4 linked regions of the Homo sapiens genome follow. The gene in region 1 interacts genetically with each later gene. Each region holds a gene or a part of one and is shown in the gene's direction. Other genes may lie near its edges. The genes, in order: POLE, LTN1, NUBP1 and TIMELESS.

What was found.
Region 2: changes in POLE (region 1) and LTN1 together harm fitness more than expected from each alone (negative genetic interaction), as found in Homo sapiens cells (one large-scale study listed by BioGRID).
Region 3: changes in POLE (region 1) and NUBP1 together harm fitness more than expected from each alone (negative genetic interaction), as found in Homo sapiens cells (one large-scale study listed by BioGRID).
Region 4: changes in POLE (region 1) and TIMELESS together harm fitness more than expected from each alone (negative genetic interaction), as found in Homo sapiens cells (one large-scale study listed by BioGRID).

What each region holds. Positions count from the first base shown.
Region 1 is NC_000012.12:132,683,257-132,691,520, reverse strand, and holds the start of POLE (DNA polymerase epsilon catalytic subunit A), read left to right. Parts: upstream 1-4,178; 5' UTR 4,179-4,205; coding exon 4,206-4,267; intron 4,268-8,264. Other genes in the region: PXMP2 (peroxisomal membrane protein 2), read right to left, coding at 1,145-1,258, 3,729-3,850. UniProt on the Homo sapiens protein: Catalytic component of the DNA polymerase epsilon complex. Participates in chromosomal DNA replication.
Region 2 is NC_000021.9:28,938,315-28,945,825, reverse strand, and holds part of LTN1 (E3 ubiquitin-protein ligase listerin), read left to right. Parts: coding exon 1-19; intron 20-1,229; coding exon 1,230-1,443; intron 1,444-1,921; coding exon 1,922-2,159; intron 2,160-2,489; coding exon 2,490-2,564; intron 2,565-4,419; coding exon 4,420-4,606; intron 4,607-7,511.
Region 3 is NC_000016.10:10,750,122-10,757,632, forward strand, and holds part of NUBP1 (cytosolic Fe-S cluster assembly factor NUBP1), read left to right. Parts: intron 1-2,488; coding exon 2,489-2,557; intron 2,558-5,599; coding exon 5,600-5,632; intron 5,633-6,568; coding exon 6,569-6,659; intron 6,660-7,196; exon of another isoform or gene 7,197-7,511. UniProt on the Homo sapiens protein: Component of the cytosolic iron-sulfur (Fe/S) protein assembly (CIA) machinery. Required for maturation of extramitochondrial Fe-S proteins.
Region 4 is NC_000012.12:56,413,600-56,420,174, reverse strand, and holds the end of TIMELESS (protein timeless homolog), read left to right. Parts: intron 1-1,815; coding exon 1,816-2,041; intron 2,042-2,166; coding exon 2,167-2,268; intron 2,269-2,388; coding exon 2,389-2,459; 3' UTR 2,460-3,812; downstream 3,813-6,575. UniProt on the Homo sapiens protein: Plays an important role in the control of DNA replication, maintenance of replication fork stability, maintenance of genome stability throughout normal DNA replication, DNA repair and in the regulation of the circadian clock.

The sequences.
Region 1 (8,264 bases):
AGTTGGAAAATACTTCACATTACTGTTGGCCGAGAGCTCACGGTGGATTAAATTGGTAAAACTCTTGAATTACTGTGCTTTTGCAACTCAGAAAGTGGTTCAGAAACTGGACATTTTTCAGGGTACCGAAGCATTTATTTTCTGGATGTTTACACTATGAAAATAACAATAGAGGCCAGGCACTGTGGCTCGCGCCTGTAATCCCAGCACTTTGGGAGGCCAAGGTGGGCGGATCACGAGGTCAGGAGATCCAGACCATCCTGTGAATGGTGAAACCCCGTCTCTACTAAAAATACAAAAAATTAGCCGGGCGTGGTGGCAGGTGCCTGTAGTCCCAGCTACTCGGGAGACTGAGTCGGGAGAATGGCGTGAACCCAGGAGGCAGAGCTTGCAGTAAGCCAAGATCGCGCCACCGCACTCCAGTCTGGGCAGCAGAGTGAGATTCCGTCTCAAAAAAAAAAAAAAAAAATTAAAATAACAATAGAAACTAACTGGTCAAATTGGAGTCAGTTTTCCCTTTCCATGAGCCCAGTCTAGGACGCTTTCAGGGTTTTTGAATCCTGAAGTCTGACTTTAGGTTAAGTTGAGTTACTTGTCCTCAGGTTTGCCTCTCAGCCCAATTAAGACAGTCACCCCTACCCATCCAATTAAAAAGAAACATGATAAAACCACAAATGTGAGCCTGTACTCCTAGCACTGTAATCCCAGCACTTTGGGAGGCCAAGGAAGGTGGATCACTTGAGGTCAGGAGTTCAAGACCAGCCTGGCCAACATGGTGAAACCCCATCTCTACTAAAAATAACAAAAATTAGCTGGGCATGGCGGTGTGTGCCTGTAATCCCAGCTATTTGAGAGGCTGAGGCAGGAGAATCACTTGAACCAGAGAGGCAGAGGTTGCAGTAAGCCTGGGTGACAGAGTGAGACTCTGTCTCCAAAAAAAAAGAAAAAACAAAAAAAACCACGTATGCGTATATATGCCATACAAACTATATGAACCATTCGAGTTTTTTCCCATGATGATTACTACAATGGTTTTTAAAAAATTATATTTCCAAATAAGAGTACTCCAACTACTCGGTTTTGGTGCCCAGCTTGGTTGCACTCAGCGGCTACAAGGTAAACCCACCCCTTGTATGGCACTCACCCGTAAACGGCATATCTCAGAGGCCCACCGACATCCAGACTTCTAGAGTTTTCTTTTTTCCGCTTCTTCTCAATCATCTGGGCCAGGAAGTTCCCAAGTGCTGACAAAATGCCACTGTGGAGAGGGAGGTCATCAGAAAACAGCAGTGACCAGCAGGAGGGTGTCCCTTTCCCATAGGTGAATTAGCAGGGCCGTTCTGAGGCCATGCAGCAGATGGGCGGGGGGTAGGAATTCTTGTTAAAGCGGCTGCAATGTATAGTTCTTGTATCAAAAGGTGGAGACGGTGGACTTAAACACACAGGTAAGGACAAGTGGCTTTCCAGTATCTATGTCAACATCCTGGCTGTGATGTTATACTATAATTTGGCAGTTTGGGAGTTGGGAAGCTGTGTGGTTATGAACGGGCAACAGGACAGCCCTATCATGACGCTGTTCTGCATTTTGACTGTGGTAGTGAACACAAGAATGTACAGATGTGATAAAACTGTACAGAACAGATACAGCTACAAGAAAAATGGAGAAATCCGAATAGGATCTGTGGACTGTGTCCACGCAATGCCCTGGTCGATACTGCACTACGTTTCACAGAATGTAACCAATGGGGGACACTGGGAAGGTGTGCAAGGAATCTCTCCATGTTAGTCTTGTAACTGTTTGTGAATCTACAATTATCACAATAAAAATTTCCATAAAAAGGTGGAACAGGCCCAGTGGCTCCCTCCAGGCCTTGGTTTGTATTTGCCTTCTGAGAAGCTCTCTGGACTATAAAATCCAAAATTCCTAGCACGGACCTAGACACCTTCTCGATCAGATCCCTGGCGATTCCCTTCACATCTCCTGCCTCTTGCTCAGGGTTCACTTTCTCCACACACAGATCTTCCCTCCCTCGGGACTGAGTCCAAGCTGCACCTCTCTCCGCCTTTCTTTAACGCCGGCCTTCCCTTCAAAACCTAACAGAGACCTTTGCCCTGCTGTTCCCTGTGCCAGGAGAGCCTCTGCTCCACTTCTTTACACAGCCTGTTCAATGTCACCTTCTCAAAACACCTTCCCTGGCCGTGTCTCCACCCGCGCCGTGCGGACCCGCGCCCCGCAGACTCGCTCCCTTGGCCCTGTCTCCACACGCTCCATGTGGACCCGCTCCCCTGGCCCTGTCTTCACCCGCACCACGCAGACCCGCTCCCTTGGCCCTGTCTTTACCCGTGCCCCGCAGACCCGCTCCCCTCGCCCTGTCTTCACCCGCGCCCCGCAGACCCGCTCCCTTGGCCCTGTCTTCACCCGCGCCCCGCAGACCCGCTCCCTTGGCCCTGTCTCCACCCGCGCCATGAGGACCCGCTCCCCTGGCCCTGTCTTTACCCGCGCCCCCAAGACCCGCTCCCCTGGCGCTGTCTTCACCCGCGCCCCGCAGACTCGCTCCCTTGGCCCTGTCTCCACACGCTCCATGAGGACCCGCTCCCCTGGCCCTGTCTTCACCCGTGCCCCGCAGACCCGCTCCCCTGGCCCTGTCTTCACCCGCGCCCCCAAGACCCGCTCCCCTCGCCCTGTCTTCACCCGTGCCCCGCAGACCCGCTCCCCTGGCCCTGTCTTCACCCGCGCCCCCAAGACCCGCTCCCCTCGCCCTGTCTTCACCCGTGCCCCGCAGACCCGCTCCCCTGGCCCTGTCTTCACCCGCGCCCCCAAGACCCGCTCCCCTCGCCCTGTCTTCACCCGTGCCCCGCAGACCCGCTCCCCTGGCCCTGTCTTCACCCGCACCACGCAGACCCGCTCCCTTGGCCCTGTCTTTACCCGTGCCCCGCAGACCCGCTCCCCTCGCCCTGTCTTCACCCGCGCCCCGCAGACCCGCTCCCTTGGCCCTGTCTTCACCCGCGCCCCGCAGACCCGCTCCCTTGGCCCTGTCTCCACCCGCGCCATGAGGACCCGCTCCCCTGGCCCTGTCTTTACCCGCGCCCCCAAGACCCGCTCCCCTGGCGCTGTCTTCACCCGCGCCCCGCAGACTCGCTCCCTTGGCCCTGTCTCCACACGCTCCATGAGGACCCGCTCCCCTGGCCCTGTCTTCACCCGTGCCCCGCAGACCCGCTCCCCTGGCCCTGTCTTCACCCGCGCCCCGCAGACCCGCTCCCCTCGCCCTGTCTTCACCCGCGCCCCCAAGACCCGCTCCCCTCGCCCTGTCTTCACCCGCGCCCCGCAGACCCGCTCCCCTCGCCCTGTCTTCACCCGCGCCCCGCAGACCCGCTCCCCTCGCCCTGTCTTCACCCGCGCCTGCGGACCCGCTCCCCTTGCCGTGGCTTCCCCGGGCGCGCGGGGCCCCTGTTGGGTCCTTGGGTGGAACCTCAGCGCCGACCCCCGGGTCTGGGCGGGCCCTCCACGCGCTGGGAGGGCGGGATCCGCAAGGCGCCTCACAATCGCTGACTGCGGACGCGGGTGTCGCCGCGGGAAGTTCAGCGCCGGGTCGGAGGGCGCCCGCTCCGGGGGTTCTGACCCGGGCGCGCCCCCAGCCTGGTCCCGGCCCGGCGCTCCCGTCCAGGCCCCGCGCCGCTGCGGCCGACCTGGGGCCGGGGCGGCGTCCGATTCCCGCGCCCCCGCTCACCTGGTGGCCGCCTTGGTGAGCACCGGGTAGAGCCGCAGGAAGAGCAGGTACTGGGCGAGCGCCCGCCGCGGCAGCGCCCCGAGCCCGGCTTCGGCCCGCAGCCTGGACGCGGCCGGCGCCATCGCCTCCCCAGCGCCGTGCCGCCGGGGGCACCGACCCCACCTCAGGCTGGCCGGGCGCGGAGCCCGAGGCGCCGAGAGCGGAGTGGGGACCGCCTGACATTTCCGGCCCCACCGCGGCCCGCAGCGCCGCCCGGTCCCAACCCCACGGTGCGCCGCGCGCGCCTACCACACACTTTTCCCCGGTCCCTGCCGGCCACCTCCCCCGCCGGGCGCCGGCGCCAATTGGAGCGCCTCGGGGGGCGGGGGAGGGGCGGAGCGCGCCTCTTGATGGACGGCGGCATTTCCGGCTCTCGCGAGTCTGGGTGGGAGCGCGCCAAATTTCTCCCCTGAAGCAGAGGTGGTAGCCAACGGCTCCATGTCTCTGAGGAGCGGCGGGCGGCGGCGCGCGGACCCAGGCGCGGATGGCGAGGCCAGCAGGTGAGGGGCGCCCTCCTGAGGCTCTCGGGCCGGCCCTCCGGAGGGTGCCATGGGGCCGTCCTCGGCTGGCGCCGCCGAGGCGGGAGGGAGGCCCGGTTCCCGCAGCCGCCCGCACTCGCCGCGCCTGACTGGGGTAGGGCGGCGCGCCCCGACCGCCGACGGAGGGGCTCGGGGCGGGCGGAGGCGCTACGGGCGCGGCTTCTTTGCGGGGAAACGAGGCGGGCCGCGCGGCCTTTCCCTGCTCGGCTCTTTCTGAGGTTTTTCGGGCCTCGCCTTCCGCGCAGCTGCGTTTGGGACCTGCCGCGCGGCGGGGGCGATGAGAGCGGCGGGACCCGGGCCAGGCCCTGCGGGGTGGACGCGCGGCTGGGGAGGGTGCGGGGAGGGGCGGGGCCGGGGACCCTGCCTGGGGGCCTAGCGCTGGGGGAGGCCGAGGCGGGCGGATCGCTGGAGCCCAGGATCCTGTTCTAGATCAGCCTGGGCTACAGAGAGAGACCTCGTCTCCTCTGTTTTATTTTTTTGGGCAGGGAGTCCCGCTCTGTCGCCCAGGCTGGAGTGCAGTGGCGCGATCTCGGCTCACTGCAACCTCTGCTTCCCGGGTTCAAGCGATCCCGCTGCCTCAGCCTCCCGAGTAGCTGGAATTACAGGCGCCCGCCACCAGGCCCGGCTAGTTTTTGTATTTTTAGTAGAGACCGGGTTTCACCATGTTGGCCAGGCTGGTCTCGAACTCCTGACCTCAGGTGATCCGCCCGCCTCGGCCTTCCAAAGTGCTGGGATTACAGACGTGAGACTCCGCGCCCGGCCCTTCTCTTGTAAAAACAAGAAAAATTAGACAGGCTGGTGGTGCGCGCCCGAGGTCCCAGCTATTAATACTCCCGAATCCGAGCCGGAGGTTCACCTGAGCCCGGCAGGTCAAGGCTGCTGTGAGCCGGGATCGCGCCACCGCACTCCAGCCTGGGCGACGGAGCCAGACCCAGTCTCAAAAAAAATAGAGCAAGGATAAGACGCGGCTGCTTGGTGGCCAGAGCAAACGGTAAACATGACCGGAGGACTGGCCTGCCATAAGCAGAAAACGGATGAGGCCCGGCGCGGTGGCTCACACCTGTAATCCCAGCACTTTGGGAGGCCGAGGCAGGAGGATCACCTGAGGTCAGGAGTTCGAGACCAGCCTGACCAACATGGAGAAATCCCGTCTCCACTAAAAAAATACAAAATTAGCGGGGCGTGGTGGCGCATGCCTGTAATCCCAGCTACGCAGGAGGCTGAGGCAGGAGAATCACTTGAACGCGGCAGGCGGAGGTTGCGGTGAACCGAGATCGCGCCATTGCACTCCAGGCTGGGCAACAAAGAATGAAACTCTGTCTCAAAAAAAAAAAAATAGAAAAAACGTGTGAGAACGTGAAGCTTTTTACAGACACTTAGCTGAACAAAATTCTTCCCAGAGGAGAAACCAAGTGGTAAGGATCCCTAACTGCTGTTGTGCTCATCGCTGTCTGTCCATATCAGGCAAGCCCTAGAGAGGCAGGTACCCTTAGGGTCTACATGGTGTGTTGGAACTTGGAGCTTAGAGACGGTTACTGACTGCCCTGCTTCAGGACACAGGACTGCACTCACGTGCTCCACTCCACTGCCCTGCCCCAAGCTCAGTGATGGCCTCCAGGCAGGGGGAAGGCTGCTGCTGGGATAAGTACAAGTGATGGCTTTTACCTTACATGCTTTATGTGGGTTACCTCATCTCATCCTTAAAACAGTCCTGGGAGGTGAGTGTGCCCCAGGAGGCAGTGGGTGCTGTTTGCCTGCGTTTCTTCTTGTGTGAAATGGGGACACCAGTGGCCTCCCTCGTAGGGGTTGTCATGAAAACTGAATGAGAGCATATGTGGAGTACTGGGACGGTGTGATACAGTAACCAGTCAATGGTAGCTCTCTGTGAATGAGAGCCTGTGTGGAGTACTGGGACAGTGTGATACAGTAACCAGTCAATGGTAGCTCTCTGTGAATGAGAGCCTGTGTGTAGTACTGGGACGGTGTGATACAGTAACCAGTCAATGGTAGCTCTGTGAATGAAAGCCTGTGTGGAGTACTGGGACGGTGTGATATAGTAACCAGTCAATGGTAGCTCTCTGTGAATGAGAGCCTGTGTGGAGTACTGGGACGGTGTGATATAGTAACCAGTCAATGGTAGCTCTGTGAATGAGAGCCTGTGGAGTACTGGGATTGTGTGATACAGTAACCAGTCAATGGTAGCTCTCTGTGAATGAGAGCCTGTGTGGAGTACTGGGACGGTGTGATACAGTAACCAGTCAATGGTAGCTCTCTGTGAATGAGAGCCTGTGTGGAGTACTGGGACGGTGTGATATAGTAACCAGTCAATGGTAGCTCTCTGTGAATGAGAGCCTGTGTGGAGTACTGGGACGGTGTGATATAGTAACCAGTCAATGGTAGCTCTGTGAATGAGAGCCTGTGTGGAGTACTGGGACGGTGTGATACAGTAACCAGTCAATGGTAGCTCTCTGTGAATGAGAGCCTGTGTGGAGTACTGGGACGGTGTGATACAGTAACCAGTCAATGGTAGCTCTCTGTGAATGAGAGCCTGTGTGGAGTACTGGGACGGTGTGATACAGTAACCAGTCAATGGTAGCTCTCTGTGAATGAGAGCCTGTGTGGAGTACTGGGACGGTGTGATACAGTAACCAGTCAATGGTAGCTCTCTGTGAATGAGAGCCTGTGTGGAGTACTGGGACGGTGTGATATAGTAACCAGTCAATGGTAGCTCTGTGAATGAGAGCCTGTGTGGAGTACTGGGACGGTGTGATATAGTAACCAGTCAATGGTAGCTCTGTGAATGAGAGCCTGTGTGGAGTACTGGGACGGTGTGATACAGTAACCAGTCAATGGTAGCTCTCTGTGAATGAGAGCCTGTGTGGAGTACTGGGACGGTGTGATATAGTAACCAGTCAATGGTAGCTCTGTGAATGAGAGCCTGTGTGGAGTACTGGGACGGTGTGATACAGTAACCAGTCAATGGTAGCTCTCTGTGAATGAGAGCCTGTGTGGAGTACTGGGACGGTGTGATACAGTAACCAGTCAATGGTAGCTCTCTGTGAATGAGAGCCTGTGTGGAGTACTGGGACGGTGTGATACAGTAACCAGTCAGTGGTAGCTCTCTGTGAATGAGAGCCTGTGTGGAGTACTGGGACGGTGTGATACAGTAACCAGTCAATGGTAGCTCTCTGTGAATGAGAGCCTGTGTGGAGTACTGGGACGGTGTGATATAGTAACCAGTCAATGGTAGCTCTCTGTGAATGAGAGCCTGTGTGGAGTACTGGGACGGTGTGATATAGTAACCAGTCGATGGTAGCTCCCTGTGTGACACTTATCCCCATTTTTCAGATTTCTTACTGTCCCTGGATTAAAAGTGAGATACACAGCTCAGAGAAAGCAGTTTTGGGAGGAAATATGGTCCCAGTGAGCAGTTTTCTAGTCTACTTAATCCAACTTACTTGAGGCAAGGATATTTGGAGGACTGGCATAGAGGGCCGTGCGCCCCTGTTAAGAGGTGATGCCTCGTAAATAGCACTTCATTCACTCTTGATTTTGATAAAGATCTGGGACTCAGAACTGAGGCTGTTCTCTAGCAAGATTTGGAATATAGTTTTTCTGTGTTTTTGATTACGGGTGCATTCAACTATTTAAAAGATTAAACCTTTATTATACAGTATGGTGGTGTATCAGTTTCCTATTGCTGCAGTAACACATGATCACTTAGTGACTATATAAATTTATTCTCTTACGGTTTTAGAAGTCAGAAGTCGTAATATGAAAGTGTCTGGTTGGTTATATTTATTGTGATGGTTCCCGGGGGAGAATCTGTTTCCTTGCTGCTTCTTCATCTTCAGAACCAAGGGTTGCATCTCCTCTCCCCCCTACCCTCTCTCTCCCATCCCTTTCTCCTTCCTGACTCTAGCTCTCCTGCCTCACTCTACAAGGATTCTTGTGATTA
Region 2 (7,511 bases), on another chromosome or scaffold:
CATGTTGGCTTGGTTGGAGGTAAATTAACCCGATATGTCATCACCTCTTGTGGGTTTTTGTACATACTTTTGCATCAGAACTATTTACTAATCTCATTCTTTAAGTGATGATTGTAATTGGTTCCTTTGTATAATTTAAAACACTTTATAGATGTTCTTCTTACCAGCTACTATTTGACAGAATAGTAAAATGATAGATTTTTAATGACTACCAGCATCATTCAGTGACCAAATCTCCTGTTATTAAAATGCCTTCTCCATTAGCTTATTGTAATATTTGCAGCACAGCCCTTTCAGGTTTTATCTGTTAATGACAATTATTTTGGTCTTTTTTGGTTATAATTAGATTATTTCTAAAACATACTGTGTGAATATTGTGAGAGTAATGCATTAAATAGTAGCAGATTCAGAGGGAATTAGTGTAATTTTTGACCCAAAGCAACCAGAGGTATATTACTTGTGGGCTCCAAGGCAGCAAGTCAGTCAGGGTTGGATTGGTCTGAATCTCTGCTTTGCCTGCTATTAGCTATGTGACTTAGAGTTTTAAACTTAAACTATTTGAGACTCAGTTTTCTTTCTTTCTTTCTTTCTTTTTTTTTAAATTTGAGATAGAATCTCGCTCTGTTGCTTAGGCTGGAGTGCAATGGTGCGATCTTGGCTCACTGCAACCTCCGCCTTCTGGGTTCAAGCAATTCTTGTGCCTCAGCCTCTCAAATAGCAGGATTACAGATGCCCACCAGCATGCACGACTAATTTTTATATTTTTGGTAGAGATGCGGTTTCACCATTTTGGCCAGGCTGGTCTCAAACTCCTGCCCTCATGTGATCCACTTGCCTCAGCCTCCCAAAGTGTTGGGATTACAGGCATGAGCCACTGTGCCTGGCCGATTTTCTTATTTTAAAATAATAACTTACAACTTGTAGGGCTACTGAGAAGATTATAAATGTGTATTTAATGTGTCTGACTTAGTGTTTCCTTCCATGGGTTAGAAATTAAAAAGGGTACTTGAGAATAAATTGTTTATTAATGATTCTATTCATGGTATTTAATTTTGAAGAAAAAAGTTATTTTGATGTAAAATTTTATGTTTCTCCTGAGATTACACACCTCAACTGCTTTTCGTTTTAAAATTCAAAGAAATGAAAGTGGGGCTTTTCTTTATATTGGCTTTATTTGTAGTGTTCTGGTAGAAGTCTGTTTACCTATTTCATTTTTATTGTTTTTTCAGACAACAAGTGAGAATCAGGCATTGTATTCTATTCCACTTGTGCAACTGTTTGCCTGTGTCAGCTGTGATTTGGCCTGTGACCTCAGTGCTTTCTTTGATTCCACAACTCTGGATACCATTGGCAATCTTCCTGTAAATCTAATCAGTGAATGGAAAGAATTTTTTTCCCAAGGCATCCACAGTTTGCTTTTACCTATTTTGGTGACTGTTACAGGCAAGTGAAAAAGGGAATAATAGTGAGATTGATTCATTGGAAATGACTTACTGAAAAATTCAAAAGCAAAAATTTTGATGTTTAAATCAAATAATACTAAATAGTAAAAGAAAAAGCCAGAAGAGAAAGCTTGGCTTCTCAGAAGCATCATCTATGCTTTACTTTACAGACAGAAATTGAAAAATGGCAAGGTATCCAATGACTGTTGCAAATTAAAATAATAATACTTCAGATAACATGAATGGATGATGTGAATAGAACCTTGCTATTGAACATTTGCTGGATCAGATAAAAGTCATTAAAACAGTTGAGATTAACTGGAATATATATTCAGTTCATGTTTCTAGTTAAGACTGCTTTATTGTTTATGTCTAGTTTTTATTTCATTTTCTTAAATGACATTTGATTGTTTGTGAATCATTTAAGCTATACTAACTTTCTTTTGAGACGTGCATGTTTCTTTCCTTTTTGTCATTAGGAGAAAACAAAGATGTGTCTGAAACATCCTTTCAGAATGCAATGCTGAAACCCATGTGTGAAACATTAACGTATATCTCAAAGGAACAGCTATTGAGTCACAAACTTCCTGCAAGATTAGTTGCTGACCAAAAAACAAACTTACCAGAATATCTCCAGACTTTGTTAAATACATTGGCCCCATTACTCCTCTTCAGAGCTAGGCCTGTGCAAATTGCTGTTTATCATATGCTATACAAGTAAGAATTCATCCAATTGAATCAATGTTACAGTGGTCTAAAAAAATAGAATATATGCTTAGTTTTTACTTTTAATTATTTAAAGTAAAATTTTTAAAAGAAGGAGATCTGACTGCTTCACTTATAGGGACCCTAAGTTGCCTCATCTTTTAGGTTATTGTTCTCTATACACAATTTATATTTCAATAGTCCTGGCTATAGTAGTTATTTTAAAGAAAACTCATTAAAACATTTACTCATTATAAAATAAGTATTGGTCTTTCTGCTCTTGAGCACGACTTAATAAACAGTTTAATATCACATATTTAAAAATAATGTTCTAATTTCTAGATTGATGCCTGAATTACCACAGTATGATCAGGATAATCTAAAGTCATACGGAGATGAAGAAGAAGAGCCAGCCTTGTAAGGTTTTTTTAAATAATTTGTTTTATTAAATTCTTATAATCCATCTCACTTATAATGTCTTTAGAGGACTGAAGCAGCACAGAAGCTATAGAGTTATATTCATTCTACAGATAGATCTTTTTAGTTATCTGTAAGATATAAATGAAATATAGATTTCACCCAAAAGATTGTGTCACTCTCTTAATTGTTCTTAAATCACATTTTCCGTTTGCTACTGTTCAGTAAAACTATCTTTGGCCATATGGTGGCTGTGGAAAGAGTGTATCGGTTCAAGTATCTATTGAGCATCCACTTTGTGCAGAGTATTAATTAAATGCTGAGGGGAATATGCAGTGTTTAGTGAGCACTTTCTTTTCCTTAAGGAATTTATCTGATACAGATGATACTGTAGCGTTATGGAAAATATAGTATATGATAAGTGCTAAGAAAAAGGATAGATAACTTTTTTTTAAAGGTCAGTTAGGCCTATATAAGATAGCATGTATGAGGGCACAATTAATGTACATCAGGAAGGGAAGACTTTCTTTTGAGGAAGAGGCATTTAAACTGGACCTTTAAGGTTAGGTAGCATTTCTGCAGGACAGGAAAGACAACATAAGTTAAGAGAACATCATGTACAAAGGCACTGAGTCATGAATGTGAGGATGTGCTTGGGGAATATTGAGTAGTTACCACTTAATGTATAGTTTTATTGATAATATCTTTCTTTACTGGAATGTAAGTTCTGTGAGGGCAGGAATTTCTCTCTCTTATTTCTGAGAGAGAAATAGGCTAGAATGCTGTAGGCCAGAATGCTTCCTGGCCTATAATAAATGGCCTTAAAAATGACTTTTTTGGGGGGATTTGGTCATTACTTGGTAGGAGATAGGGCGCCACCAGCCGATTCTGACACTAATGTGAAACATGAATTGTAAAAAGAAGCAAGCAGAGGTGGAGCTGATTGCAGAAGTTAAATAACAATGCATGGAGGGCAATGTGAAAAGTGGAGAGATTTTGGAGCTGGTATTTTATAAGATCTAGTGACTATCAGTATGGAATATAGAAGGCTGGGTACATGAGATGGAGGTGTTGAAGGAAAAGACCTAAGAGCAGAAGTTTGGAGAAGGCCTGTACTTGTGGGCTGGGAGAAGGAAGCCACAAGGGAAGAACGATCACAGAAGTGAAAGGAGAGAACCAGGCTAGAGTATCATGGAGAAGAGAGTTAAGTATTTTACTTTTTGAGAATCTCATAAGTTCACCTGAAAGTATAAATGAGTAGAGTAGTTCAATAAAGAAGAAAATTAACTTACATTGTTGTGAATTAATCTGAATGGTACATTTATTTTCCTAAAAAGATTACAATCATGATTTTTTAAACAGGCACATAATTATTTTCTGTGTTTATCCGATTAATAGTATCATTGTGATATTTCTTAATAGTACTAAGTAGATAATATGCAATAAAATAGAAACTAGAATGAAGTGACAAAGTTCGAAGTCTTAATCTTCACTTTGTCTTTTATAAGATGATAAAAGGCCGGGTAGGATTTAGAATCCCTAACAGTTTCCCCTACTAACTGAAAGACGTTGGACTCATCATTTGGCTTCTCTGGGTGTGTGATTTTTTTTCACTTAGAAAATTGAAAGAGACGTTTTCTAAAAATGTCTTTCCTTCAAGTGCTATAATATGTCTTTTTTATTTTACTGTTATGTGAGATTAGGAGTTAAAATTGGCTCAATAGAGGGGAATTTTTAAAACGTTTTTTGGAAAACAGAGAAATTTTTCTAAAATGCTTGAAGTTTACAAGTACTGTCAATTTGTTAAGGAATGAATTATAAAGAAAACTTGTGGTGTTTAATCATTGATTCTTAGGTCACCACCAGCAGCACTGATGTCTCTTCTTAGCATTCAAGAGGACTTACTAGAAAATGTTTTGGGGTGTATTCCTGTTGGACAGATAGTTACTATTAAACCACTGAGTGAAGACTTCTGTTATGTTCTGGGATACCTTCTCACTTGGAAATTAATACTAACTTTCTTCAAAGCTGCATCATCACAGGTAAATAAATATGTGACAACTTTCGATAGTTCTGTCCTAATATGCTTCTGATACTGTTCTAAATACCTTCCTTTCAGTTTAATAAAAGGAAAATCCTTATGTTTTAATCTCATCTTTTAAAATTTATTTTATTTTGTTTATTTGAGACAGGGTCTCACTCTGTTGCCTGTGCTGGAATGCAGTGGCACAATCTCGGCTCACTGCAACCTCTGCCTCCTAGGCTCAACCGATCTTCTCACTAAGTAGCTGGGACTACAGGTGCAAGCCACCATGCCTGGCTAATTTTTATATTTTTGTAGAGATGGGGTTTCACCGTGTTGCCCAGACTGGTCTCAAACTCCTGAGCTCAAGCGATCCACCCACCTTGGCCTCCCAAAATGCTGGGATTACAGGCATGAGCCACTGCGCCCAGCCTAATCTCATTTTATCCAACTAACTTCCATCTGCTTAATAAGTTTACTCCTGTCCCTTATACCTTACCTTCCAAGCAAAAGTAATTACTCTGATAGGTGGCCAGATCAACTTTTTTCTAACTGAATGTAGTCACCAGGTTCTTTTATTTCAGGAAATAATATTTATATAATTTAATTTTGTACTATCATAGTAATGATTTCAAAAGAATTGGATCTTGTGTTTTTTGTTTTTTTTTCGGAGGGAGTCAGTTTGTCACTCTGTTGTGGAGATATAACTTAATACATCATTGGAAATTTACCTTACTTGAAAATCACTGTTTGGAGAGAGATCTGTGAAACATTACCTATGTAATAATTCAAACTGTTACCTAAGTGGTGAAAATATCTGAAATATTTTGTCCAAATTATTCTAGCAGCCACTAGATGTCTCTGTTGTCTCATGTTTAGGAAGTAAGACCTTGTCCAAGAAGAAACTGGAAAGATCTCTCTAGTTTTTCTGTTAGAAGGATCCCCACTTGAAGATAGTTTGAGCCGGGGAAGTGGAGGTTGCAGTGAGCTGAGATCATGCCACTGCACTCAAGCCTGGGCGACAGAGCCAGACCCTGTCTCAAAAAGAACAAGGAAGATCCAAATCTCTGTCAATCTTTGATTGAATTAGCCTAATAAAATATGTGCCTTCTTTTGACAGGTCAATACAAAAAGATTTAGTTTATCATTTAGTGTGATTAAGTATTCATGGCATTCATTTCCAATGTGACTTTTTGGAATTTTTAAATTATAATTTATGTTGTTGCTCATACCCTATACCCTGGTACAAAGATATCAATTTTTGCATCTTTGCATTTGTATATCTGTGGGGAAAAGTCAAATCACAGAAGCAGCATTGATCTAGCTGTTAAATAGATTAGTTTTCTCTTTAGGCCTGTCACTTATTTTTGTGACTTAAGCTAGTTTTATTTGCTGATGATATATTTCAAGAGCTCCTTATTTGGCTTTTACATCAATTTCTTAAAATATTGTTGATCTTTAAAAAATAGCAGCAGATTGAGGCATTTGTGTATAAGAGTTTTGTTCTCATTTTATATTCAGAAATTAGGAAAATGGCCATGTGTCACCTTTTTCATTAAGCTGGGATTGGGTTAGGGTGCAAAATTATACGGCAGCATTTATTATTATTGAGTCTGAAACTTGAACTGAGCTGTGGGCAGATAAACCAGAATAACCCACTAAGTAATACTAATTAGATGAATCCTGAAATAAACAGAATTTTTCTTCGGAAAACTTTAAATGTTCCTAAATCATGGGTTAACTTTTTTCTCAAAAAAACTAGCAAATCAGATTGAACTGGAAAAAGTTGTATATGTACATGTGTATGTTTTTGTGTCTGTTTTATAAAGCTTTACTGAGATATTGCACATACCATAAAATTTACCCACTTAGCATACACAGTTTGGTGTTTTTAGTATATAGTCATCCCTTGATATCTGCTGGGGATTGTTTCCAGGCTCCCTCCCATGACCCCCACCCCAGCGAATACTCAAGTTCCTTATATAAAATGGCATATAGTATCTGCATCTAACCTATGCACATCTTCCTGTATACTACTTAAAATCATCTCTAGATTAGTTATCACTGATACAGTGTAAATGCTATTGAAATAGTTGCTATACTGTATTAAAGTTTTTAGTATTTTTATTGTTGTATTGGTTTTTTTAAATCACTTTTTTTGCCCCTCAAATGTTTTCAATCTGCGATTGGTTGAATTCTCAGATGTGGAACCCATGGAAGTGGAGGGCTGACTGTATTCACAGAGTTGTGCAACTGTTAACCACTATATAATTTTAGAACCTTTTCAACATCCCATTGTAATTGATAGCAATCACTTCCCATTTCCTCTCAAACCCCGCAGCTCCTGACAGCCATTAAACTGTGTTCTGTCTCTATGCATCTGCCTGTTCTGGACATTTCACATATCTGGTCTTTTGTGTCTGGCTTTTATTTTAGTATATTATTTTCAAGATTATCAAATTGAAGCATGTATCATAAGTATTGCATTTATTTTTGTGGCTGAATAATACTCCATTTTGTAGATCTATCACATTTTGTTTATCTATCTGTTTATCCATTAATGGGCATTTAGGTTGTTTCCTTTTTTTTGGCTATTGAAAATAAAGCTGCTGTGAACATTCGTGTACGAGCTTTTGTGTTGAAATATGTTTTCACTTGTGTTGTATACCTTGGAGTGGGATTGCTGGGTCGTATATGTGTGTTTTTAAAAGTCCATTGATATTGGTGATTAATTTTTTAAAAATCTCTAACTTTTTGTTTTGAAAAATTAAACAATGAAGTTGGAAGAATAATTCAATGGAAAATCACATACTCTTTTAGATAAAAAAGTTACATACATCTTTTAACATATTGCTACATTTGCACATACTTTCTCTGTATTTACTTTTTTTCTGCTGATCTACTTGAAAGTAAGTTGCAGATAT
Region 3 (7,511 bases), on another chromosome or scaffold:
TGGGAAGTCAAGGCTGCAGTGAGCCGTGATTATGCCACTGCACTCCAGCCTGGGCAACAGAGTGAGACTCTACCTCAAAAACAATGAATAAATAACAAGTCACCAACTTCCATAAATTAAACTTTTTTTGTTTGTTTTTTTGAGACGGAGTCTCATTCTTTTGCCCAGGCTGGAGTGCAGTGGTGTGATCTCAGCTCACTGCAACCTCCACCTCCCGGGCTCAAGCAGTTCTGCCTCAGCCTCTGGAGTACCTGGGATTACAGGCGTGTGCCACCACACCCAGCTAATTTTTGTATTTTTAGTAGAGACAGGGTTTCACTATGTTTGCCAGGCTAGTCTCGAACTCCTGACCTCAGGTGATCCGCCTGCCTCAACCTCCCAAAGTTCTGAAATTATAGGCGTAAGCCACCACACCCAGCCACCATAAATTAAACATTTATGATCTTTGTGATCTGAAAGGCAAACTGTCATAACAAGGTCAGCACTAGGTGTTTCAGGACTGAGTGTGCGAGGCCCTCCTCTGGGTCCTGGGACTGCAGAGCTGAGAGGGGCCTTGATGACCCCGGAGCAGTTGTCTCACAGATCAGAAGCCCAGACAGCCAAGGCTTCGAAAGCAGAAGCAACTTGTGCAAGGACTAAAAGTTAGGACTAAATCCCTCTTCCCCTACCCTCCTCATCAGGGGCAGTTTGGGGTGCTGAGTAAAGGAGACGCTTTGGGTCCCGACAGCCTTGCAGCATCTCCACCTTCTGCAGCAAACGCGGCCTCTTCCCATCAGCTGCAAACACAGGCCCAGAGGTCCTGCTGGGAGGAACGCAGGCGCATTGCTCTCAGCTTTGCTTTTCTGGCCTAACCTAAGCAAAATTAAATGGACAGATTTTGGGGTAGTAATAAGATCAACAGGAAGTCTGAACAGACAGGACCCAGGGCCGTCCTGGCCATCTGGGTAGCAGGAGCTTGTCAACAGCCTCTCGGGCCTGCCACGGGAGTGAGAGAGTGCGCTGGATCTGCTTCTCATATCCTTACATCATTTCGCTCAAGATTCACTCCCCAAGGGAGTGAAATTCCTCTAAAGGGAATTGATTAAATTGTTCCCTAAAGGAAGGGCATGGAGACAGAGTCACTAGAAACCTGAGAGTATCGAGGAAAGTCTCTATCACAGTCATAGTGATAGTGTCATTTCCCCGTGGATCATTGACACATCAGTCCCAAGTATCAAGGTCCGGAGAGAGCAAGTCAGGTTTTCCGATGATGTCGCTCTGCTGTTCTCCCCGGATGGCTCCATAGAGGGCACCTGAGGCCAGTGCTGGTCTGTGGATGGCGTTTTCCCGTGCACAAGTTTGAGACAGCGCTGGGTGCTGAGGAAGTAGGAGGCTGGGTTTGTTGAGAGGATTGAAGAGGGTGGCAAGAAACTAATTCAGGGCAAGTTAAAAAGTGACGCGGAGGTGCAGCACTTTGGATCCGAGTCATTGCAGCTTTCAAGATGAATACTAGCCCTGTTCTCAGAAGGTTCCTGAAGGCCGTCTCAGACCTCCTGTATCAGAGGGGAAGGCTTGGGGTGGAATGGGGTCGCCTGAAGCTGCACCTGAGTCACAACTAAAGAGCTTTTCCAGGTTTCCATCTTACTTTAAGTTTCTGTTCTGTAAGTTTAGCCTAAACCATCATTCACCTTCAGGATCAAAGGAAAACAGGGCTTGGTCAGGGTTCAGCTAGAGGCTCCACTCTGGTCCTCCACAGCAGGCCCGTGGTGTACTGGAAAGAGCCCCAGTTGGGGCCGAAAGACCTCAGTTTATGTCCCAGCTCTGTTCCCTGCTTATTGAACTGGTCCCCTCTGAACCTCAGTTTCCTCCTCTGTAAACCAGAGATAATGATACTTACCTTCTAGGCACATGGCCGCCTCAGCCTCCCAAAGTGTTGGGATTACAGGCGTGAGCCACTGCACCCAGCCCCCAATATTTTTTAATACATTCATATTCTGCTTAAATAGTCTAGATTTGGCTTGTATCTGAGACTCCTGAACAAGATAGGATGAGTTTGAGAAAAATTTAAGATGCAGAGACCAAGGCTTGGTGAGGGGTGAGCAAAAGAGAGCTGTTTAGGGTGGCTCCAACACTGCCGTCTCTTGGCTGTTCCATCCATTCTGTCACACAAGCCAAACAGGCGCTAGGTCCCTTTCCCCGTCTCCTCCAACCAGGGCTCAGTAAACAAGGTCTGAGCCCGAGCCTCCAAGTGACCTGACAGCCAGGTCTGTAAGATCACCCTTGAGGAGCTCAGCCAGGCTGAGGGGTAGGGGAATGGGGGCATCAGTGTTTATGAACCTTGAGATCAGCGTTAGGACTCTCCCTCAGGAGAATCTGATGGCTCCAAGTTTAACCCAGTTTCTGTCTTCTCCCCTGTCCTTTTCCTCTAACCCCGCTCCCCTCCTAGTTGTGTGTGTCTGGAGTGTGTGCATTCAGTTATATAACCGCTTTGGTCTCTTCTTGTCCCCAGATTGCTCTTCTAGACATCGATATATGTGGGCCATCGATTCCCAAGATAATGGGATTGGAAGGAGAGCAGGTAATAGCCGGTTACAGAACTCAGGAAATTATTCTCTTAAGGCAAACTCTGTAGCACTGAACTGTCAAACCTCAACAAAGAGGCATGCGGAGCCCATAAATGTTTTTTTGTTGTTGTTTTGTTTTGTTGTTTTTGAGACAAGGTCTCACTCTTGTCGCCCGGGCTGGAGTGCAGTGGTGCAACCTCAGCTCACTGCAACCTCCACCTCCTGGGTTCAAGCGATTCTTGTGCTCAGCCTCCTGAGTAGCTGGGACTACAGTGGTGTGCCATCATGCCCAACTAATTTTTGTATTTTTGGTAGAGACCAGGTTTCACTACGTTGGCCAAGCTGGGCTCCACCTCCTGACCTCTAGTGATCACCTGCCTCAGCCTCCCAAAGTGCTAGGATTACAGGCGTGAGCCACCGCACCTGGCCTGTAAATGTTTATGTGGACATGAGGAGCTCATACATGCTCAGTAGTCCATCTGTCTACTTTTAACAACAACTGTGAGTCTTGGCGGGGGAGGGGCGGGATTGTATATGAAGTCTGTCTACACCATTGGAGAAGCATTGGTTTCGATGCCTCCTCAGAGGGGAAGGGAAACAGCCAGTGAAATGCAGAAGTAAGACACGGAAATTTAGCTCTGACTGGGAACATTAGACCAGGGCTTGCTATGGGTCTGTACCCTGGAAGCAAGGGAATATTTCTGCCCTTGTGGTCTCCCCTGGGGAACTGAGACTGCAGGGCGGGTGAGCGATGTGGGCTGGGGGCAGGGCTGTAGCAGTCTATGTAGTTGCTGGCCTCTTCTTGCTAGCAAGAAGCTCTCCAAGAGAGGATTCCCCCAAGGGCAGTGCATGGAAGCTGGGGCTGGGGGTGCTGGGATGTCCCGAGAGTCTCAAGATTGGTTCTTTCTTTAATTAGTGCCAGGAATGCATTAATCCTGTTTTGGGGATGCAGTGGTGAACAAGGTCCATGAAGACCCCTGTCTGGGTGGGAGAAGGCAGATGCTAGATAATGTGAAACCAACCCAGAGTGAGGGGATGGACAGTAGGGCAGAGTCAGAGGGGCTGAGGGGTGGTCAAAGGTGCCCTCACTGAGGGATAGCATTTGAGCAGAGGATGACAGGAGGGGAGAGCTGGGGGAAGGGCATTCTGGGCTAAGGGAGCAACTGCATGGGCCGCTGACACAAGGTGTCCTTGTGTCCTCAGTGGAGTGACCAGAGGGGCTGGAGGGTGGCCCGAAGCAGATGGGGCCGGCCTTGCAGGCACTTCTAAGGCCTTGGGGTTTGCTTCCGAGGGAGTAGGGAAGGAGAGCGATGTCACCCTGTGAGGCTTGGTCACATACCCCAATGGATTTGGTAGCACACGCCACAGTGAAGGTATAAGCTACTGTCATCACACGTAATTATTTCATGAAACAGAAAATTTTAAAATAAAAGAAAATAGAAGTTTCCCTATTTTCTTCTCCTGCACTATTGGATCATCCTGTTTACCCCTCTTTTAAGACAAATGGACTTAGCAAACGAGTGTAAATAGGAATGAATGGTTTTGTGGGGTTTATTTTATTTTATTTTATTTTATTTTATTTTATTTATTTTATTGAGACAGAGTTTCACTCTTGTTGCCCAGGCTGGAGTGCAGTGTCGCGATCTCGGCTCACCACAACCTCCGCCTCCCGGGCTCAAGCAGTTCTCCTGCCTCAGCCTCCTGAATAGCTGGCATTACAGACACACGCCACCACGTCCAGCTATTTTTTGTATTTTTAGTAGAGTTGGGGTTTCACCATGTTGACCAGGCTGGTCTCGAACTCCTGACCTCAGGTGATCCTCCCGCCTCAGCCTCCCGCAGTGTTTGGATTACAGGTGTGAGCCACTGTGCCTGGCTGGGTGTCTTTTAATAGAACTTCGAAGTCAGTCACAGAGGACCGCATGTTGTGTGATTCCACTTACATGAAATGTGCAGAATAGGTCAGTCCACAGTGAGAGAAAGTGGATTAGGGGTCCTGTAAGGCTGGGAGGATGTGAGACAGACTGTGGGGGGTGGTGACAGCTGAGGGGTATAGGGATTCTTCTTAAGAGTCAGGCAAATGTTCTAAAATTGTGGTGACTGGGTACAGTGGCTCACACCTGCAATCCCAACACTTTGGGAGGCCAAGGCGGGTGGATCACTTGAGGTCAGGAGTTTGAGACCAGGCTGGCCAACATGGTGAAACCCCGTCTCTACAAAAAATACAAAAATTAGCTGGGCATGGTGGCGGGCACCTATAATCTCAGCTACCTGGGAGGCTAAGGCAGGAGAATCACTTGAACCTGGGAGGTGGAGGTTGCAGTGAGTCAGGATCACGCCACTGCACTCCAGCCTGGTCGACAGGGCAAGACCCCATCTCAAAAATAAAAATAAAAAATAAAACTGTGGTGATGGCTGCATGCTTGTGACTGTACAGAAAGCCACTCATTCAATGGGTGAGTCATATTGTCTATGAATCATGTCTCAGTAAATCTGTTGAGAAAAGTAAGGCTTCATCAAGAAAATTAAACTTTCAGTGTGCGCTTTGTGTGCTGCTGGACACCTGCTGGGGGGAAGAGGTCTGAATCTTGTTGCCCCAGGAAGCTCCCCTTTGTGGCTGGAGCTGATTGGGGACAGGTTCTGAATCAGCTGTTTCGTGAGAGCTCATTCCCTTCACTCCTGTGCTTTTACAAAAGCCACCTCATTGCTCCACAGGTATCTGCATTTTCTCATCAGTCCCCAGCCGATTTTTATGACTCTTTTAAGATACCTTAGACACAACATCATATTTGAACTTGAGTAACTTTGGTTCCCTATCTAGACATCCAAGTAGAGTTTCCAAATAACCCAGCTTAGGGCACAAAGGGAGTTGAGTTGCATCTTTATTACCCACGCCCTAGCTGTTCACCTCCTTTTAGGAATTTCGTGGTACCATGTAAGACAATGAATTATATTTTAAAAAACCATCGTCTTACTTTGTACAATTTGTCTGTGCATGAAATGTGACCAGGGTACATGATTTCTACTAATGAACATCGGTGCTCATGTTCACACAGGTTCACCAGAGTGGCTCAGGCTGGTCTCCAGTGGTGAGTTTTCACCTCTTTGCCCTATTTTCACAGTAGTGTGTGGTTGTGTGTACATAATGGGTTTGTGGTTTGTTGGTCCATAGGTATTTATTAGGGTACTTTTCGAGGCACAGAGGATGTGATTAAAACCAGTGATTGGCAGGCTTTTTCTGTAAAGTGTGGGACGGTAAAGATTTTCAGCATGTGGGCCTACATTCCTTGCTGTTGTAGCACAAAAGTAGTAATATGTAACTGAACAACCAGGACAGTATTCCAATAAAAGTTTATTTACAAACACAGATGGTGGGCCAGATTTGGCCCTGAAGTCCATAGTTTGTAAATCTCTGGTTAAGAGAGTTAAGGAGGCAGGGTGCAGTGGCTCACACCTGTGATCCCAGCACTTTAGGAGGCCAAGCCAGGCAGATCACTTGAGGCCAGGAGTTCGAGACCAGCCTGGCCAACATGGCGAAATCCCATCTCTACTAAAGATACAAAAATTAGCCGAGCATGGTGGCACGCGCCTGTAACACTGGCTACTCGGGAGGCTGAGGCAGGAGAATTGCTTGAACCCGGGAGGCAGAGGCTGCAGCAAGCTGAGATTGCACCATGCACTCCAGCCTGGGCAACAGAGCCAGACTTCATCTCAAAAAAATGAAAAATAAAAAAATAAAAGAGTTAAGGAGATGACATTTACTTATTTTAGCTGAGTTCCCTGTCATTGCCGTCACTGCAGCCCATGGACATACAGTGCCTCTTTCAAATCCCCCAACATGGTACCCTTTTTTTTTTTTCCAAAAATGATTTAGGAGCAAAGAGTGAATATGCTCATAGGTCACATGGTAGTTTTGTCCTGAAAATGTTTTTTTCAGTCAGAGCTCAAACAGAAGACCTGGGGGAGGGCCTCACTGTGTGGTTTTGAGTAAAGCGTGTCTTGCCCTCACCCTGTTCCCTCTGCAGTACGTGGAAGACAACCTGGGGGTGATGTCAGTGGGCTTCCTGCTCAGCAGTCCTGATGATGCTGTTATCTGGAGGGGACCCAAGAAAAACGGTTTGCCACTCTGCCTTTTTTTGTCTCTCACATTCTTCCACGAGCGTTGTGGCTCTTGGCTTTATCTGCTCCCTGTCCTGCCAGTCTCAGCCTGCTGGACTTCACAGTATATTATTTTTAACCATCCAGTGCCTCTTTCTTCACTGGTTGAAAAGAGCTAATAGAAATACCAGTTTCCATTACGTAATTATAAATATCTGCTGTGAGTTTTTCTCTCCTTAAAAGCTGTAGAACCCTGGTCGGGTGTGGTAGCTCACGCCTGTAATCCCAGCACTTTGGGAGGCCGAGGCAGGTGGATCACCTGAGGTCAGGAGTTCAAGACCAGCCTCGCCGACATGGTGAAACCCTGTCTCTACCAAAAACATAAAAAATTAGCCGAGCATGGTGGCACGTACCTGTAATCCCAGCTACTCGAGAGGCTGAGGCAGGAGAACCCAGGAGGCGGAGGTTGCAGTGAGCCAAGATCATGCCACTGCACTCCAGCCTGTGTGACAGAGCGAGACTTTTTCTCAAAAAAAAAGCTATAGAACCCTGAAATTATTTTTATCATGGTTTTATAGTGGCTTATTTGGGTCAGAGAGGTGAGATCAACAGGAGGTTGATCTGGTACTGAGACTTAAGGTAATAATGTGAAAGTGTTATCAGGGCAAGCTTTAGCCTCAGCACTATTGATATTTTGAGCCAGATAAGTCTTTGTTGGGGGGAGGAGTAGACCGTGTTCTACACCATAGGGTGTTAAACAGTGTCCCTGGCCTTTACCCACAAGATGCCAGTAGCACCCCCTACTCTATTTGTGACAACCCAAAATGTCTCCAGACATTGCAATTCACTCCCAGTTGAGAGCCACTGACT
Region 4 (6,575 bases), about 76 Mb from region 1:
TCTAGATTACATATAATACCTATACAATGTAAATGTTAGGTAAATAATTGTTATACTGTATTGTAAATATATATATATACATTTTATTTATATATATATATATACACACACACACACACACACACATATATATATATATATATATTTTTTTTTTTTTTTTTTTTTTTTGAGACAGAGTCTCACTCCATCACCCAGGCTGGAGTGCAGTGGCTCAGTCTCAGCTCACTGTCGCCTCAACCTCCCAGACTCAGGTGATCCTCCCACCTCAGCCTCCTGAGTAGCTGGGACTACAGGCCTATATTACCACTCCCAGCTAATTTTTTGTATTTTTTGTAGAGATGGGGTTATGCCATGTTGCCCAGGCTGTGTATTATTGTTTAATGTTGTATTGTTATTTTTTTTTAATATTGTCGATCTACAGTGGTTTGAATCCACAGACTCAGAACTTGTGGATATGGAGGGTCAAGTCCTCTGTCCAGAGCCATTGATGGTTCCTTACTGCTTGCAGGACAGAATCCACAAACTCCAAATGGCATCCCCATCCTTGGCCAACCTTTGCAGCCTCACAGCCACACCACTCACACACCGACTTTACATCATAGTCACCCTGGTAGGCTTTTTCATGCCTCCAAATGGTTAATCATGCCAGTCCCTCTATTGGAAGGCTGCAACCGTGCACACAGGGTGACACACACACACACACACACACACACACTCCATCTGTCTTACTGATGGACCTCTACCCAGTCTTCAAGAGTCTGCTCAATTGTCACCTTGTCAGAGAAGCAGTCCTTGTCATTCTTTCAACCCCTGAAGTAAAAATAATCACTTTTGCAGCTGTGATTTGTTCATGCCCCTGATGCAGCCTTAATCCTGTGGAATCTGCTGGGTATGGTGGCTCACGCCTGTAACCCCAGCACTTTGGGAGGCTGAGGCAGGCGGATCACCTGAGGTCAGGAGTTCAAGACCAGCCTGGCCAACATGGCAAAACCCTGTCTCTACTAAAAATACAAAAATTAGCCCGGTGTGGTGGTAGGCACCTGTAGTCCCACCTACTTGGGAGGCTGAGGCAGGAGAATTGCTTGAACCCAGGAGGGTGAGCCTTTATTGCTTTGCCACGGCACTCTAGCCTGGGCAACAGAGTGAGACTCTGCCTCAAAAAGAAAAAAAAAAAAATCCTGTGATACTACAGTACATTTGTTCTTTTTCCCATTGGATTGTGAGTTATTTGATAGCAAGGATCATACCTGATTCACCTTTACATCCCCAGGATTTATTTATTTATTTATTTATTCAATTGACAACTATAGCCAGGTGTAGTGGCTCATGCCTGTAATCCCAGCACTTTGGGAGGCTGAGGTGGGAGGATCGTTTGAGACTGGCCTGGGCAACACAGCAAGACCCTGTCTCTACAAAAAATTTTAAGTAGTTGGGCATCATGGTGGCATGCACCCCTGTGGTCCTGGCTACTTGAGAGGCTGAGGCAGGAGGATAGCTTGATCCCAAGAGATCGAGACTACAGTGGACCATGATTGTGCCACTGCACTTCAGCCTGAGTGACAGAGGCAGACCCCTTCTCATTTAAAAAAAAAAAAAAAAAAAGAACAACCAAAAAAACCTATAACTGGGAACCTCCTAATGTAGCAGGCACTGTGCTAGGCACTGGGTATATATTAGATAGTAAGTATTATAATAAATAGAGTTCACAACCCTTGTGGATCTTCACCAATATTGGGTCATATATATTCAATGAATATCATACTCTGGGAAACAAAAAGCTGGTCCTTTCCCTTTTCAACTTTTTGGCCCCTGTAGGAAACCTTCTGGCGAATTCCAGCCAAGCTGAGTCCTACCCAGCTCCGGAGGGCAGCAGCTTCTTTGAGTCAACCAGAGGAGGAACAGAAGCTGCAGCCAGAGCTGCAGCCTAAAGTCCCTGGAGAGCAAGGCTCTGATGAGGAGCACTGTAAAGAGCACCGAGCACAAGCCCTGAGGGCCCTCTTGCTAGCCCACAAGAAGAAAGCGGGCCTGGCATCCCCAGAGGGTAATAGTGCGACAGCCATCTTCTGAGTATTAACGTGTCAGCCATGTTGGTCTAGAGGGCAGGAAAGGTGTTCTGAGAATATGAGGACCGAGTTCCTAATTTTGTGTCATTTATGGTCATTGCAGAGGAAGACGCTGTTGGTAAAGAGCCGCTGAAGGCAGCACCCAAGAAACGACAATTGCTGGACAGCGACGAGGAACAGGAAGAAGATGAGGGCAGGAACAGAGGTAGGGAATTTGATGGGACCTTCTTTTTCTTCTCTAATCCTGAAGACAAACTCTACCACGTCCTTACCCCTTAACATATTTAGATATTCTCTCTCTCTCTCACCCCCATCGTTCCCACAGCACCAGAGTTGGGAGCTCCAGGAATCCAAAAGAAGAAACGATACCAGATTGAGGATGATGAGGATGACTGAAGAGCTAAGAAGCCTAGGGGTAGAGATAGACACGTTTTTAGATGGTGCATTCAAGTCAGAGTTGGAAGGGTCATACAGGACCCAGAAGCTCCTCTTACTGGACAGAGCAGTAGAATCCCAGGCTCTTTCACGGATTTAGGCTGAGAAACTTCAGCAGCAGTATTGGACTTCTCTGCTGTCAGTCTTTGTTTCTCCCAGTTTTTATCGGTATGCCCCAGCAGCTCTCTGGAGATTTAGTTCTCTTCTTCTAGGAACCATTTCTTTTGGTTATTGGAGCTCCTTAGCAAATAAGAGGAGTGAGTGAAATAGAGAAAGCACCCCGGACCCCTTTTATTGGTCTGTTCCTTTGGCTTTCTCTTGGAGGTGGGTCGCAGCACCAGATGGGGAGCTTTATGACATGACAGGCGGGAGTTTTGTACCACTTTTAGAAGATACCAGATGCCTCTGTCCTCATTTTGTTTCCTATGATCATCCTCTAGATACCAGATAGAGGCCCATTCCTGCATTTGAGATAGGGTTGGAATATAGTACTCTAGATGATGAATGTGTTTGCTTTGTGTTTGGTATTAAACATGTAAGATTAGAAGTTCTCATCTCAGTCTGACTTGGCGATATGTCTAAGTTCCCCAGCCCTTCCCCTGCTGTGCTCTTGAAAGAAGAACTTAACAATTTTAGGGTAAAAAGAGACCAACAGACCGGCACAGTGGCTCAAACCTGTTGTCCTAGCACTTTGGGAGGCTGAGGCGGGCGGATCACCTGAGGTCAGGAGTTTGAGACCGGCCTGGACAATATGGCGAAATCCCATCTCCACTAAAAATACAAAAATTAGCCGGCCATGGTGGCATGCGCCTGTAATCCCAGCCACTCGGGTGGCTGAGGCAGGAGAATTGCCTGAACCCAGGAGGCAGAGGTTGCAGTGAGCTAAGGTCACGCCAGTGCATATGCCTGGGCGACAGAGCAAGACTCTGTCTCAAAAAAAAAGAAAAAAAAAAAAGACCAACAACCTTCCCTTTTCTTCCGCTTTCCCTACAGAAGACACAGAAAAGCATTTTTGCCTCTAGATCCTTTTGTCTAGGGTAAATTCTTAGGGTGACAAGAGTATGCGGCAGGAAGAAGGAGGAGCCATAAAGGAAGAGAAGCCAGCTTGTTGGCATGGGGCATAGAAAAGGACAAAATCTAGGCATGAAAAGGATGGATAAATACTGCAAATATTATGTTCTTACCCATTCTTGGAAACGTCAGCTTTCTTGCTTCCTGTGCTTCCAGCCGAGGTAGGGCAAAGGTGAGATTGAGAAAATAGCCATTCAGCTCAGGAAGGCTTCTAAGTAAAGGATGGATTTGGATTGCCCTGTTGCTTTGACTTTTCATTTTTATTTTTTCCTGAAAAGATGAGGATCTCCCATAGCCTCTAAAAGTGGGAGTGAAGCTATTTCCATGGTAATTGAAGTTTCCAAGGGCTAGACACTTTCTAGCTCTGGCCAGTCTTGGTGTCTCTTCATCCTGAGCTTTTCTTCACTTCGCAACCTGAGCACTGCTTCCTTCCAGCAGGGCTGCTCTGTTTTCCCTCCATGATCCGGGCTGTGCTGCTCCTTTGCTGTGTCCTGCTGTCCCCAGTATCTGCCTTTTTTTTTTTTTTTTTTTTTGGAGACGAAGTCTCGCTCTGTCACCCAGGCTGGAGTGTGGCAGCATGATCTCGGCTCGCTGCAGCCTCTGCCTGCCAGGTTCAAGTGATTCTCTTGCCTCGGCTTCCCAAGTAGCTGAAATTACAGGTACGAGCCACCACGCCCCGCAAATTTTTTGTATTTTTAGTAGAGACAGGATTTCACCACGTTGGCCAGGCTGGTCTTGAACTCCTGACCGAAGGTGATCCGCCTGCCTTGGCCTCCCAAAGTGCTGGGATTACAAGCGTGAGCCACCGTGCTCGGCCTAGCAGCTGCCTTTTTTTTTTTTTTTTTTCTTTTTTGTGATGGAATCTCACTCTGTCACCCGGGCTGGAGTGCAGTGGCGCAGTATCAGTTCACTGCAACCTCTGGCTCCTGGGTTCAAACAATTCTCCTGCCTCAGCCTCCTGAGTAGCTGGGATTACAAGCATGCACCACCACACCTGGCTAATTTTTGTATTTTTAGTAAAGATGGGGGTTCATCATGTTGACCAGGCTGGTCTGGAACTCCTGACCTCAAATGATCCTCCCACCTCAGCCTCCCAAAGTGCTTGAGCCACCGCATGAGCCGGTGGCGTGATTACAGGCATGAGCCACCGCATCCGGCCGTGGCTGCCTTTCTAAGAAATGTCCAGAACTGGACCCTGACTTTCCATCCCTCTTTGAAATTTCCAGCTCCAGTTTCTTCTAGCAGTGTTTATCAGTATAGAAAATTTACTATGTATTGGCCGGGCATGGTGGCTCACACCTGTAATCCCAGCACTTTGGGAGGCCGAGATGGGAGAATGACAAGGTCAGGAGATCGAGACACTGGCTAACACGGTGAAACCCCATCTCTACTAAAAATATAAAAAATAGCCAGGCATGGTGGCGGGCACCTGTAGCCCAGCTACTCAGGAGACTGAGGCAGGAGAATGGCGTGAACCCAAGAGGCAGAGGTTGCAGTGAGCTGAGATCGCACCACTGCACTCCAGCCTGGGTGACAGAGCGAGACTCCGTCTCAAAAAAAGAAAAAAAAAAAAGAAAATTTACTATTTATTAGGCACAAGAGGTATTTTTGTCCTTTTCCGTTTATTTACCCTTTGGAAATTTTTAAATGAGAAGAGGAGTAAAAAGCTATTTCTTACATATTTGAATCACAGCCGTCTGATTTCTCCTTATTCTGGGTCTCTTGGATTAAGCTGGGAATGTGGGAGCAAGAGGTAGATACTGCTTTTGCGGCATTTCTGACACCTAAACAAGCTCTGATTAGTCAGTACATATCAATTCAGGTATAGATTGGGAGAACCTATAGATCACGATGACAGTCACACATGTATGAAAGGGAGAAAGAGAAAAATTACAGTGCTACTCAGAAAATCTTGGCCAAGTTGATACAGAGCCCCAGAATGAAGATTACATGACTGAGGAGTCCCATGTCTGGCCGACTTGGCTGGGCTCTAGCACTGTCCACCTGTCATTGTCTCAGAGCAGCCTGTAGAGAGGGATGCTGCTGTGATCACTGCAGAACATTCTAAAGAGTGGAAGCTGTCGGCCAAATAGAATGTTCACTCTGTGTTCTCTTGAAGGGAGATCTGAGCAGAACACCACAGGGCAAATAGGCAAATGTTTGCCAAAATTGTGCCCTTACTGACCTTAGAGACAAGCAACTGTCCCCTCTCATGAGACAGAGAACTGGGACTGGAATAACCTACCTGGGAAAGCCCACCTCTCACTGACTACCCTCTGGTAATTTGGTGCTCTCAAATATTTAAGTAGAAAGTGAAGCAGAGGAAGGCCCTGGTGACCAGGGAATAGGAGAAGTCAAATAAGATCAGTGCGGTACCATTTCCTATGTAACTGGGCTTTAACCTAAAATGAACACAAGCCTGGAGGTAATGGGTGAGTGAAACGGTCTGTTTTCTAACTCCCACTTCAGCTGATCATTTACTGCTACATGTTGCACACACTCTGGCTGCCATTTCATATGGAACCCAAACTAAGGCCCTGATGTCCCTTGCTTCGTATTTGCAGAGCCCTGGTTCTGCCAGACCTGGCTTCCAAAGTTCCTGCCTGGTGTCTTCCATATGTCCTCTCTACCCAGGATCTAGTAGGCCCGGCACTAAGGAAAGCCCTGGAGCAGGCTGACTCCTAAACTTGATGCCAGGCCCTGAAGATTTGGCTATACAGGGTGGGATGTGTGAAAGCCACATAGTCCCATACACACCAGCTCCAAGGATTCTGGAATTTCAGTGGCATAAGGAGGAGCATGCCAGGTGATACCATGGCCTCTGTTCTGCAGGTGTTAAGACGGGCTTCAATCAGACCCAGGAAAAGCCAGATGTGTCTTTCCCACTGAGTACTGTGAGCAGGGGCAGGAATATCCTGAGCACAATGTGTTCCAGTTTTTGCCAGGAGTGGGAACCTACTCCTGGCAGTGGCAGCCCATCTGGAGTGGTCACTGCAAAGACGCCAG